2 linked regions of the Homo sapiens genome follow. The protein of the gene in region 1 purifies or fractionates together with the protein of each later gene. This does not show direct contact. Each region holds a gene or a part of one and is shown on either strand. Other genes may lie near its edges.

What was found. The genes of interacting proteins can lie anywhere in the genome.
Region 2: the proteins of CLNS1A (region 1) and GAR1 purify together in Homo sapiens (affinity purification with mass spectrometry; 5 studies listed by BioGRID and IntAct, with this or other methods). This does not show direct contact.

The regions. Positions count from the first base shown.
Region 1 is NC_000011.10:77,620,783-77,627,802, forward strand, and holds part of CLNS1A (methylosome subunit pICln), read right to left. Parts: intron 5,037-7,020; coding exon 4,935-5,036; intron 4,289-4,934; coding exon 4,181-4,288; intron 1,892-4,180; coding exon 1,718-1,891; intron 1-1,717. UniProt on the Homo sapiens protein: Involved in both the assembly of spliceosomal snRNPs and the methylation of Sm proteins.
Region 2 is NC_000004.12:109,811,225-109,818,761, reverse strand, and holds the start of GAR1 (H/ACA ribonucleoprotein complex subunit 1), read right to left. Parts: upstream 3,001-7,537; 5' UTR 2,958-3,000; exon of another isoform or gene 2,757-2,957; intron 2,610-2,756; 5' UTR 2,598-2,609; coding exon 2,384-2,597; intron 827-2,383; coding exon 672-826; intron 1-671. UniProt on the Homo sapiens protein: Required for ribosome biogenesis and telomere maintenance. Part of the H/ACA small nucleolar ribonucleoprotein (H/ACA snoRNP) complex, which catalyzes pseudouridylation of rRNA.

The DNA.
Region 1 (7,020 bases):
ACCAGCCTGGCCAACATGGTGAAACCCCGCCTCTACTAAAAATACAAAAATTAGCCAGGCATGGTGGCACATGCCTGTAATCCCAACTACTCAGGAGGCTGAGGCAGAAGAATCTCTTAAACCCAGGAGGTGGAGGTTGAAGTAAGCCAAGATCATGCCACTGCACTCCAGCCTGGGCAACAGAGTGAGACTCCGTCTTAAATAAATAAATAAATAAATAAGACAGAATCATGGCCGGGTGCAGTGGCTCACGCCTGTAATCCCAATACTTTGGGAGGCTGAGGCGGGCGGATCACCTGAGGTCAGGAGTTCGAGACCAGCCTGGCCAACATGGTGAAACCCCGTCTCTACAAAAATACAAAAATTAGCTGGGCACGATAGTAGTGGGTAATCCCTGCTACTCAGGAGGCTGAGGTGGGAGAATCACTTGAACCTGGGAGGCAGAGGTTGCAGTAAGCCGAGGTCACGTTATTGTACTCCGGCCTGGACGACAGAGCAAGACTCTGTCTCAAACACACACACACACACACACACACACACACACAATCAGTGTATATACACACACAAAAGGACACAAGACTGAAAGGATATGCAACAGAAAATTAATAGTAAATGCATCTCAGAATTATATTTATTTTTTTCTACCTCTTCTTTGCCTGTGCATACTTTAAGCCAACATGGTGGAACCTTGTCTCTACTAAAAATACAAAAATTAGCTGGGAGCGGTGGCAGGCGCCAGTACCCCAGCTATTCAGGAGGCTGAGGCAGGAGAATCGCTTGAACCCAGGAGGCGGAGGTTGTAGTGAGCCAAGATCGTGCCATTGCACTCCAGCCTCGGCAACAAGAGCGAAACTCCATCTTAAGAAAAAAAGAAGGGTGTGATAGTTAAATTTATGCATCAACTTGGCTAGGCAATGGTGTCCAGATAGTTGGTCAAACATTATTCTAGATGTTTCTGTGGAGGTTATTTTTTAGATGAGATTAGCCTTGTAAACTGGTGAAAATTGGGTGAAGGAGATTACCCTGCATAGTGTGGTGGGTCTCATTTAATCAGCTGGAGGCCTCAATAGGAAAAAGACTCACCTCCCCTGAGCAAGAAGAAATTCTGCCAGCAGAACTTCTGAGGCAGCAGAATGCAACATAAACTCTTCTCTGGGTCTCCAGTCTGCCGGCTTACCATGCAGATTTTGGACTTGCCAGCCTTCAGTCACGTGGGCCAATTTCTTAAAATCTCTCTCTTGCTTTGGTGGGTGTGTGTATACCTGAAGAGATGCCTGAATTGACAGCCCTCAGAGATAACCTATCGTGGACTTCTAGCCTCCAAAACTATGAGACAATAAAATTCTATTGTTTGAGCCACCCAGCCTGTATGACACTTTGTTATAATAGCCCTAGCAAACTAATACACAGATGCAACAGTAAATTAATAGTGGATATCTCTCAGTTAGAATTACACTTGTTTCTTTTTCACTTCTACTTTCTTGCGCACATTAAAAAAATTTTTTTGACTATGAACAAAGACTTTTTTGGTAATGAGGAAAAAAAATCACTAAAAACAAATGACATAAGCATTCCTATACTATGTAATTCTGTATCTGCTTCCTATACTATAGAGAGTCAATTCTTTCTCTTAGTTATTAAAAGAACTTCTATTGACTATCCATAACTTATTGCCCAAGTGCTCATCTGACTGTTCACACTGCAAAAGGACACTCACCTTCATAATCTCTTATTGAATCTTCTGTCCTGACCCCAGCCATATTATACTGGCTGCTCACAGACTGAGAAAGCATTCCTTCTAATCTCTCCAGTGTGGCTTGGCCTTCTGCTGTTAGATGGGATAATCCTTCTTCATAGGTGTAAAATGTAGGGATGTCCCCCTGTCCTTGTTCTAAACAAACAGAAAACTTTAAAGTTTAAATACAACAATTAGAAAAAACAAAATGGAATCAATAATATATCTGCCGCCAGCCTGGCCAACATGGTGAAACCCTATCTCTACTAAAAATACAAAAATTAGCCAGGCGTGGTGGCACGCGCCTGTTGTCCCAGCTACTCAGGAGGCTGAGGCAGGAGAATCGCTTGAACCACAGAGGTGGAGGTTGCAGTGAACCGAGATCACGCCATTGTACTCCAGCCTGGGCAACCGAGCAAGACCTTGTCTTGGAAAAAAAAAAAAAAAAAAGAATCTGCTGAAGATAATATACTGTCCAAATAGGCTTCCAGGAAGATACTTTTGAACATTTATTTATACACACATATAGGCTACTGCTGAAGACAGAAATACAAAGAAGATGTACCTACTCTCTAGGGTTATTAAAAGAGATAACAAGCCAGTAAACAGCAATTCCCAAAGAATCCCAAGTCCAGGGACTAGAAAAAAAAAGTGTGTTCCTAAGGTCAGAGAGTCCTACATTATCCTGAGGTGGGAATTTTACAAGTGAGCACAAATTAATTTGGTATTAATTTGTAAAATGAAGATGTTTTCTGATTAAAAAACATGCTCCTTTCTTAAAAAAAATCAGGGCCAGGTGCAGTGGCTGACGTTTGTAATCCCAGCACTTTGAGAGGCCGAGCTGGGAGGACTGCTTGAGCCCAGGAGTTCAAGATCAGCCTGGACAACATAGTAAGACTTCATCTCTCCAAAAAAATGTTTTTTTTAATTAGCCGGGCACGTGGTGTGCACCTGTAGTCTCAGCTAATCGGGAGACTGGGGTGGGACAGCTTTGGTCCAGTAGTTCAAGGCTGCAGTGGGTGGAGAATGGTACCACTGTATTCCAGCCTGGGCAACAGAGTTAGACCCTGTTTAAAAAAAAAAAAAAAATTAGAAATTCTGGAACATACAAAAAGGATGAAAAATTTTAAATCACTCAAAAATCTCAGAAAGATAAGGATATATTTGGATATATTTAGGTATGTGATGGCGGATCCCAGAAATGTGTTTATCTCAGGCCAGGAAGTGGGTACATATGAAGGAAAGGGCTTTGGATACCCAGATTGGTGTACATAAGACCAGTAGGGAAAAGAAAAGAGAACAGCAGGTACTTCAAGCTATAAAGACTCTTATCACGCTAGTGACTGCATTCTGGTCTGGGGGAGGCAATCGGAAAGGGCTCTTAAATAAATGAAGTATGGTTCTGAGAAAAAGAAATGACCTTGGCAGTGAGCTGTTTGAAGGAACATGTTAAATAAAGATGCAGGCCAGGCCCGGTGGCTCATGCCTGTAACCCAGCATTCTGGGAGGCCAAGGCCAGAGGATTGCTTGGGCCCAGGAGTTGGAGACCAGCTTGGGCAATATGGCAAAGCCCAGTCTTTATAAAAAATACACAAAAATTAGCCAGGCATGGTGGCGCAAGCCTGTAGTCCCAGGTACTCAAGAGGCTGAGCTGGGAGAATCATTTGAGTCCAGCAGGCAGAGGTTGCAGTGAGCAGAAATCACACCACTGCACACCAGCCTGGGCATCAGAGTGAGACCCTGTTGCAAAATAATAATAGTAATAATAAAACAATATAAATGATCCAGGTTCTCAAGGTGTAGAGAGAGAAGCTTGTTCTCTGGGGGCAGCTGCCTCAGCTTAAAAGACTTTCCTGACCATCCACTTCCCTATCTACCATTTTCTTTCCTCCCATATGCTCTACTTACCCATTCTTCCCCATAACAATCTCTATTTCTTACACTCAAAAATTTGTCTGTTGCAAAGGGCTTTGGCATAAAGTGTTCTACCGTGTCATTCTATTTTAATAATAATCTTACCAGCCAGGCACAGTGGCTCACACCTGTAATCCCAGCACTTTGGGAGGCCGAGGCAGGCGGATCACCTGAGGTCGGGAGTTCAAGACCAGCCTGACCAACATGGAGAAACCCCATCTCTACTAAAAATACAAAATTAGCCTGGCGTGGTGGCGCATGCCTGTAATCCCAGCTACTTGGAAGGCTGAGGCAGGAGAATCGCTTGAACCTAGGAGGCAGAGGTTGCAGTGAGCCGAGACCACGCCATTGCACTCCAGCCTGGGCAACAAAAGCGAAAACTCCATCTCAAAAATAATAATAATAATTTTACCATACTGCATACTTTACAGTCATATAAAGAACTATAATCCTCTACCCTTAATACAAATAAATGCTTAAAATGAAACACTAAACAAACAAAAAACCCACTTTAAAATCCATTTCACTAACCATGTGCTTCCACATCATATTCTTCTCCATCGTAGTCATCTGAATCCTCATCCTCAGGATCTGGATGCAAGGCCTGGCATTCGCACATTGCAGTGAACATTGCCTCCACTGAACAAGGAAATTAAACTGTAACCAATCTTTTTTTGTAATAAAAGTAACCATCAGTGCAAATAAATTTAATGGGTACACAAAACGCCACAGTATTTACAAAATCTGCCAAATTGTAAGATCAATCTTGAAAGCGGTTGAAGCAAAAGACAAGTCATAAAATAATAAGAGTTCATTATGAGAGATCATTGCAATCTCTTCATGGCTCGTGGGATTTTCCAAGAAAAAAGGGTCAGAGTCCTGGTAAGACTGCTGGCATCAGGGTGAAGGGTGAAGACTGCTCTCAGCTGATAGGGCTCTTTCCAGCCATCCTGAGATCTTCCACTTTAAAACTGCCATAACTCCTCTGCCATCCAGCAGGTGAGATTAAGTCAACAGCACCAATCAGTAAAACTAACCAGAGTCCACTCACAAAATATACCCAGATGACAGAGTGTCTACAATATTCTCACTACATTCACAACCTTTGATATTAATAGGTATTTGGTCCTTAATGATATTACCAATGCTAAAATAAAGAAAAAGCAATAGAATGGAGGTAATGGTGGTAAAGGTGAGAGGTGTGTGTGTGTGTGTATGTGTGTGTGTGTCAATTGGGAATGCTTGGTATGTAAAAGGGGAAGAATCAATACTGTAGAACACTCACACGCTGATTTATCACTAGGCACAAATCTAAATTCAGTAATAGGTTCAACATCATCATCACTGTCTTCCTCTTCTTCATCAGCAACAGGTTCTTTTGATTCTTCTAGAAAATAAAATACCCTTTTAATGTCATTATTTGACTTTAAAAAAATGAAGCATATTGAAAATCTGAATATTGCAATTCAATTTTAATTTCCAATTATGGTTGACAAATTTATTTCCAATTATGGTTGAAAAATTCTGATTATACAGTGAGCATCCTAGAAAAGCCTTGCCTCGATCTCCTGACCTCGAGATCCACGCACCTTGGCCTCCCAAAGTGCTCCCTCCGCGCCTCACCGGGAATGAATTTTTAAGGTTATTTTTAAGGTAATCTAATCTCATCAACAATGAGCTAAGGGTCAACTTTTTTTTCTGAGACTGGGACTTGTTTTGTTGCCCAGACTGGACACCCTTGCCCTCTCAGGCCCAAGCGATCCTCCCACCTCAGCCTACTAAGCAGCTGGGACTACAGGCACTTGCCACCACACCCTGCTAATTTTTGTTTTTTTGAGATGGGGTCTTACGATGTTGCCCAGGCTGGTCTGAAACTCCTGGGCTCAAGTGATCCTCCTGTCTTGGCCATTCAAAATGCTGGGATTGTGGCTGGGCACGGTGGCTCACGCCTGTAATCCCAGCACTTTGGGAGGCCGAGGTGGGCGGATCACGAGGTCAGGAGTTTGAGTCCAGCCTGGCCAATATGGTGAAACCCCGTCTCTACTAAAAATACAAAAATTAGCAAGGCGTGGTGGCAGGCGCCTATAATCCCAGCTACTCAGGAGGTTGAGGCAGGAGAATCATTTGAACCTGGGAGGTGGAGGTTGCAGTGAGCCAAGATCACAGCATCGCACTCCAGCCTAGGTGACAGGGTGAGACTCCATCACAAAAAAAAAAAATGCTGGGGTTACAGATGTGAGCCACTATGCCCGGTCCTGATGGTCATTTTTTTTTTTTTGAGACGGAGTCTTGCTCTGTCGCCCAGGCTGGACTGCAGTGGTGCCATCTCGGCTCACTGCAAGCTCTGCCTCTTGGGTTCACCCCATTCTCCTGCCTCAGCCTCCTGAGTAGCTGGGACTACAGGCGCCCGCCACCACACCTGGCTAATTTTTTTGTATTTTTTTTAGTAAAGACGGGGTTTCACCGTGTTAGCCAGAATGGTCTTGATCTCCTGACCTCGTGATCCGCCCGCCTCAGCCTCCCAAAGTGCTGGGATTACAGGTGTGAGCCACCGCGCCCAGCCCTGATGGTCATTTTTAAAGAGACTTACAGAGGTATGCCAAAGAGAAAAAAAAAAAACTTAGAGCTTAGAGAATCAGAATGCAAGGAACAAAGGCTGGGAAAATATGATTCAAGCACATGTAATTTATGAGAGGAGTTTAAGATAAAAAGAACTAAAGGGCCAAGCGAGGTGGCTAACGCCTGTAATCCCAGCCCTTTGGGAGGCTGAGGTGGGTGGATCATGAGGTCAGGAGATGGAGAGCATCCTGGCCAACACAGTGAAACCCCAACTCTACTAAAATACAAAAAAAAAAAAATTAGCGGGGCGTGGTGGCGGGAGCCTGTAGTCCCAGCTACTCGGGAGGCTGAGGCAGAAGAATCGCTTGAACCCAGGAGGCAGAGGTTGCAGTGAGTCAAGATCGCATCACTGCACTCCAGCCTGGCGACAGAGCAAGACTCCATCTCAAAAAAAAAGAAAAAAAAAAAAGGAACTGGAGAATTAGTGAAATAAATGTGACCCAGAAAGATACTAATTTCTAGTAAGATAGGAAATCCTGCATATCTTACTAAGAAAGGATTAATCATAATCACATCAATTACAACCAATCATATAGATTCTGTATGATTATAGAGCACATATTTAAAACACACACCCTAAAACCTACTGAACTGCTTTTTCCTAGTTTAGGACTCAGAGCATTTGCATTTTAAACAAGCTTCCCATGTATTTCTAATGTGTATCCATTAGTCTTGAGTTTGGGAACAAGAGACTAATATACTCCCTTAACTTTTTGGATGAAATTCAGGCTCAGAGAAATGCAAATGACTTG
Region 2 (7,537 bases), on another chromosome or scaffold:
GAAACCCCACCTCCACCAAAAATACAAAAATCAGCCGGGCATGGTGGCGCTCACCTGTAATCTCAGCTACTTGAAAGGCTGAGGCACGAGAATTGCTCGAACCCAGGAGGCGGAGGTTGTAGTGAGATGAGATCGTGCCACTGCACTCCACCCTGGGCAACAGAGTGAGTCTCTGTCAAAAAAAAAAAAAAAAAGGAAAAAAGAAAGGAAGGAAGGGAGGAAGGGAGGGAGGGAAGAAGGCAGGGAAAGAGCAAGAGAGAGAAAGAAAGAGAGAGAGAAAGAGAGAGAAAGAAAGAAAGAGAGAAAGAGAAAAAGAGAGAGAGAGAAAGGAAGGAAGGAGTTTCCAGAGTAGTGGGGGCACCAAACAACTTCTAATTCTACATTTCCAGTGGCACCACTACATCCAAATCAGCCAACTTAATCCTGTAGTACTTATCCAAATGGCCATCATTAATAGAATTTTCCAAAAAAAAAGTCACCGTTCTAGGGTCTGTCATTTTAATATCTATGGATGAATACATTCTCCCCTTGATTCTCCTTCATGGTCCAATCTGTAGCAATCCTGTCTAATTTAATGAAGCAACAACTTTAATTTATACTTAACTGCCTCCTCAGAAAAATGCAAATAGCAACCTTTGAATATTATCAGGCCTTCCAATGAAAAAGGATACAAAATCTCTGAGTTGTCCAAATATTTCATCCACTTTTCCAATTTGTTCTTTGTTTTCTAAGTAAACAGGAGCATTGAAATAAGGCACCTTATTTTCATCTGTGGTACATTTACAAACTATGTCATCTTCACAGGGATGCAGGAACTCTCCTAATACTGAAACAGGACAAGAAAATGTTAAAACATAGAACTATTTCAAACGATACTGACCAACTGCTTCTGGAAGCTTTCTTTTTGGCTACCTGGGACTTCACCATAACTGCTCTCCTCTGAGGCAGAAGACCACAGTCTTAGGACTTCCTGGGCTGGTATACCAACTCCACAACACACTAGCTATTTGACCTAGGAGAAGTTACCCACCCTCTCTCTAATTCAGTGTCTCATTTTTAGTATGCACTAATAACATATAATGTATAGCTATACCTAATATACAGTAATGTAAGCACTCAATGGAATAACAAATGTCAAGTGCTTAGAACAGTGCCTGGCACACTGACACCATTCAACCTGTAACAGTTATGTTATTACAACTTATTATCTGATTCAAAACTCTGCTTCATTCTCTTGGTTCTCCCTTTTCTTCAATGCCTAACAGAATCAGCCTTCATTCTTTTTTTTTTTCTCTTGCCTTAGAACTTTTCCATTCCCACTACCACCTCTTTAACAATGATTCATTGTTTTCAAGGACATCTGGAATCTCAAAATAACTACCTTTATTTCTAACTAGACTGTCACCCCAAACTAAAATACCACATTCCTGCAAAACCAAGTCTTCATTCCTATCACCCAAGCTCAAAACCTGGAACCCTTTATTATCAGCATTAGCTAAGTTCTACCGATTTTGTTTCCTTTGAAATCTCTCTCCTATCTAACCCTTCCTTTTTTTTCCTCACTGTCACCATCCTGATTCAGGCTCTCAAGGTCTCATGTATGGACTGGTACAACAGCTTGTGGGCTGGGACCTTTTATTCTAGAAACTGCTCCTTTCAAACCATCCTGCATACTCATCCAAGCCATTCTTAGTTAGACACTACTCACCCTCTCTCCTCTTTAATGTAGTAAGTTTCACTTTCTGTGACTTCCATTCCCATCTCATTGTTAATTACTCTAAAACTACCCTAAATAGGTGTTTTTCTAGATTTCCTCTCTGGCAGTTTCCCTCTCAAGCAAATTGTTTTCTCACTTATCTACTTTTGAGTAGTAACAGAAAGCATGGGCTTTGGAGTCAGAATACTTGGCTTTGTATTTCTTTCTTTTCTGTACAGACAGGGTCTCCTGCTTTATTATCCAGGCTGGTCTCTAACTCCCGGCTTCAAAAGATCCTCCCGTCTTAGCTTCCCAAAGTGTTGGGATTACAGGCGTGAGCCACCGCACCCAGCCTGTATTTCAGCTATATCACTAATTGATCACTTATCACTAACCTTATGACCCCAGCAAAAAAACTTAACTCTAAATCATAGTTTTCTCATCTGTAAAATCGGGGAATTAGGCATAAGTACTCACGATTACCTATTTAATATCTTCCTGTCAACCCTCAAGTTCCACCTCCAAGATGCATTCTAAGTATCCCTCAGCTTTCTTGATCTCCCCACTCCACCCTTACATGCTACATTCTCCACACAGGCTTGTGTATCCCAAACTTGCTGCCTAACAACACAAACCCCCAACCCACACCTACTCCTTCAAATAAGCTAAATACTGAAGACTGCATACAGACTACACGTTCTGGAGGTCCTTGGTCTTGGCCTTTGTTAAAGCCTCCGCGGCCACCCCCTCGTCCAAATCCTCCCCTGCCGCCGCCTCTGAAATTGCCGCCGCCTCCACCGCCGCCTCCACCTCGGAAGTGGTTGCTGCTGCCACCTCGGTTGAAGCCGCCACCTCCACCACCTCGATTAAAGCCTCCACGACCTCCGCCTCGAAAAGACATTCTCTCTCCTCCCTGATGAAAAAAAAACGACCTATGTCTTCTGATCACTGTAGCCTCTGAGTATACTCCAACCCCTCGGAGCTGCGGTGAGAACACCATAAAGGAGACAAAAGCAGCCCTGTCACCTCACCCACGGTCAGACAGCCAGTGACCACCAACCTGATGGGTGAAGAGTTTACTTCTCCATGGTCTCGTGAGCGCCGACCGACCACACACCACCCTTGCCGCCCCATGATTAGTATCTCCTCCCCCTACAGACAGCAAGGTCTTCGCACCGCATCCCCTTCCTTCCTCCCTCCCTCCGGCAGTTGGGTTCCACGTCCAGCATTTTCAAATCCTCCGGCTTCTACGGCCACTCACCGGCGCCACGTGCCCCTCTGGCCCTGGCCTTGCGCACACACCCACCCGCGGGGTACTTCCGCCGCGCTGGAACCTCCTCGGTTACCGTACCGCCACAGAGTTTTTTAAAGACCAGAAACTTGAATAACTGGTTTGCCAAAAAAAAAAGCCAATCACCCGCGGAACAAGCAACACTGGTTCCAAAACAGCCTTTAGCGCTGGAAAAGTGGCAATAATAGATAACCTTAACCACTAATTTACAACAGAGAGGCCAACTTGCCTGACGCTGAGCCGTGGAAGTGACGTATAACAGCGGCGTCCTTTGCAGCACGACGTCCCGGAAGTGCTGCGGCAATGTTGCTCTTGGAGATAGCTGGCGTTAGGGATCCGCCTTCTCTCCCAGAGGCGGGGCAGGTTTCTGTTTGGTTGCCGCCCTAACGGCCAGAACTAAAGCACCTTGCAAGGAATGAAGTTGGTTCTTGAAGTCCGTGCTGACTGGCTGGGCGCATTTGCGCATTTGCTTCTCTGGCTGCAAAATGGCCCGCAACAGCACTCACTAATTTGTTGCTAACTTCAGGAACTGTGCGGACAGGTCTCTGAGGCTTCTGAGCCGCGCTATGTCCAGTAGATCTGGGCGCCTCAGAACCTGTCACAGCCGACGGAAGCGTTTATCTGAGTTTCTTGTTTCTTCCCAACCTTTTGATTTTCGCACCATTACGCGCTCAACTATGCCTCTTCTTTTGTCCTATGGTCTCAACTAATTAAAGGAAGAAAAGCAATGCATGTGTGTGTGTAATTTTAAAGAAACTATGCTGTCTTATAGAAAACCAAACCATCATTTTTATCTTTTGTACCAGGTATTCAAGTATGTTTTGAGCACCGACGGGCTGTGAACTGGACTGTGCTGAAAGCTCCTCTCCCTCTTCTCTCTTTAAGCCCTTTATATTTGACATCAGCTTCCCCCACATTCTCCAAAGCTTCTCTCACAAATAAAGGTAATGACTTCCCATTTATTAAATTTGGTTGGAGTCTTTTACACCCAAACCCTCTGAGACCTTACCTTGATATTTGATCTCGTGTTTAGAAGAGGGTGGAACTTGGTACCTATCTAATTCAGAGGGTTATTGTAAATGGGATTTTAAAATACCTTTGTAGGCGGGGCGTGGTGGCTCACGCCTGTAATCCCAGCACTTTGGGAGGCCAAGGCAGATGGATCACTTGAGATCAGGAGTTCGAGACCAGCCTGGCCAATACGGTGAAACCCCTTCTCTACTAAAAATACAAAAATCAGCCGGGCATGGTGGCACACGCCTGTAATCGCAGCTACTCGGGAGGCTGAGGCAGGAGAATCGCTTGAACCCGGGAGGCGGAGGTTGCCGTGAGCCGAGATCACGCCACTGCACTCCAGCCTGGACGACAGAGCAAGGCTTGGTCTCAAAACAAACAAAAAACAAAATAAGTGAGAGAGGAAACTTTACTTGTTCTTTTTCTTTTAGTTTAGTAAATGCTGCAATTTGATTTTAACGAATGTTGGTCTTTTTATGGGCCTATATAAGTGTATTATTTTTGAAACAAAAAATGAAAATTACCTATTTAGTATGAAACCTTTGCTTATCTTTTGCTGTGTATTTGCTCAATTCTGAATTGAACTTGAGATTGTCACACACAGATTGCATTTTCAACTGAAATGAGATGATTTTTGTCTTTACTCTTAAAACTTAGTGAGAAAAAGCTTGCTTGAACAAGAAGTTTTAAAGTATGTCAAAATGTTTATTACTTTCTTAAAAATGTCAAGCTGCTCTTCTTTCTCAGAAATCCAAAACTTGTAGAAGCACAGATCAGGCCAGGTGCTGTGGCTGACGCCTGTAATCCCAGCATTTTGGGAGGCTGAGGCAGGCAGATCACCTGTGGTCAGGAGTTCAAGACCAGCCTGGCCAACATGGTGAAACCCTGTCTCTACTAAAAATACAAAACTTAGCCGGGCGTGGTGGCGGGCGCCTGTAATCCTAGCTATTTGGGAGGCTGAGGCAGGAGAATCGCTTGAACCCGGGAGGCGGAGATTGCAGTGAGCCAAGATTGCGCCACTGCATTCCAGCCTGGGCAACAGAGCAAGACTCCGTCTCAAAAAAAAAAAAAAAAAAAAAAAGAAGGAGAAACACAAATAAGTACATTTCATCTTATATCTACAGTCATACATTCACAAAGTTCTTCCTCTTTTCTCAAAGCCAGGTGCTCAGGCTGAGAAGATTCAAGGAAAGGGTTCCTCACGTAGTTATACAGTTGTGTTCCAGGGGAAGGAAAATATTGTTCGGTTTTGTTCTGCAATTCCCCACGGTGGTTTTCGGTAAGACTTGAGACTTCCTTATTCTAAAGTCCAAGCAGCAGTGGAAACATTTCAAGATCCCTTTTTGCAATATAACTTTTCCAAAGATTCAATATTTATTTAAACCCAAAAATCTTGTCACTCGAAGTAAAACGATTTTCTCCAGGGCCTGAAGATCCTTGTTCAACTAGTTCATGTGATGAAAATGTCTGTTAAGTAGGTGATATGGTTTGGATGTTTGTTCCCTCCAAATCTCATGCTGAAATTTGATTCCCAGTGTCGTAGATGGGACCTCGTGGGAGGTGATTGGATCATGGGGGCAGAATTCTCATGAATGGCTTAGCACCATCCCCTTGGTGATAAGTGAGTTTTCACTCAGTTCACTTGAGATGTGGTTGTTTTAAGAGTCTGTGACCTCTTCTATTTCTCTCTTGCTCCCACTCTTGCCATGTGACATGCTGGCTCCCCATCACCTTCCGCCATGATTGTAAGCTTCTAGAGACCTCACCAGAAACTGATGCCAGCACCATGCTTCCTGTAAAGCCTCCAGAACCATAAGCCAATTAAACCTCTTTCTTTATAAATTACCTAGCCTTGGGCATTTCTTTACAGCAATGCAAAAAAAAACAAAAATGCTGGTTTCCACAGCCATTCTTTATCTTCAAAGAATTTGGTAAAATCTGGGCTACTGTTTTCTTGAATGTATTTCTGTGATTCACTTTCTAGGTCAAGCGTCCTGTTAAGGAGCAGAATCTGTATTACCTTCTCTCACTCCAATCCGTAGTGTCAATAAACATTATTTTGTGTAATTTCTGTAGGTCAGAAATTAAGGAGCAGCTTAGCTGGATGATTTTGACCCAGGGTCTCTCATAAGGTTGCAGTCAAGGTATCACCTGGGGCTGCAGTCCACTGAAGACTTGACTAGGGCTGGAGGATCCTTTTCTGAGGGAGCTCACTGACATGCCTAGCAAGCTGATGCTGCCTACTGCCAGCCCCAGTTCCTTGCCATACAGACCTCTTTACAGGGTGCTTGAGTACTGACATGACATGCCAGCTGGATTCCCCCAAAATGATCTGCTAAGCCATAAGATTTACGCATGTGGAAGGAGATTTATATGGGCCTTGTCCAGGTTTTCACATAGTTTAAAAAAAAAAATTTTTAGAAGTGAATTGCATTATGTTTGATAAGTCATCTTCATAGCATCATCTAGAACTTTTTTCATTTCTGCTCCAAAACTTTCTGACATCAGCACTCTCTGGGAAGAAAGCAATGAGTTGTGAATATGTCAGGATTTTAATGAGAATTGAAATCTCTGAGGGAACCAATCGTTGATAGGGTACCATAAATAGATACTGACACAGTTCTTCCAAGAGGTACCTTCTTTTTCCAATATGAAGACAGTAAATATATCTTTACCTTTGCTTCTTTGCAGCAGTGTTTAATAGAAGAAAAATTTTCTTGAATTTTGCCGTAATTTATAAATCTTGCAAATGCTACTTTATGACATTTGTTGTTGAAATCTGATGATTCATCAACCTGGATGAGAAGTTGTTAGGTTCTTTTGATGCTATGCAGCATTATGTGACATGTCATCAATCACATCAATTTATCAAACTTTGAAAGTGAAACCGTTTTAGTTTCTCATTACATCATATGCTGGCGTCTGACTCTCTGTAATTATACATGCTGAAATTGTGAGGTCCCATCAATTGTGGGGCTCTTTCCTTTTCTAGTCAAAAGGTTCTTCTGCTAAATAACTTGCTTTCTGGGCCTTTTTACTGAAGGTGACTTAAAAAAATAAATACATTCTTTACTCTGGGTTTCCAAAGGCCATATAAAATTATCTGCTCCTTTACTATGGTTTGCAGTTAAGTGTCTTTTCAATTTTGCTGGAGCCATTGCTTCATTTATAAGTTGTGATTCTTCATTACTAACTTTATCAGAATTATTAAGACTTAGAATTCTCTTCCATCTCCCAGTTCATCTTCAAAAATCACCACATTGGACTATAAGTCATGTTTGTAAAACACAGATGCTAATCAAGTATAAAACAAGCAAACTAAACAAGGAAATTTTTTTAAAAAATGATATCTTCAAATGCAATTCACTTTTAACCTGCAAGCTCCATGTGTCAGGCCTCTGAGCCCAAGCCTGCGTGTATACATCCAGATGGCCTGAGTCAACTGAAAACTACAAAGGAAGAGAAACAGCCTGCTCCTGTCTTAACTGATTGACCAACCTTAAGACATTCCATTATGACCTGTTCCTTCCCTGCCC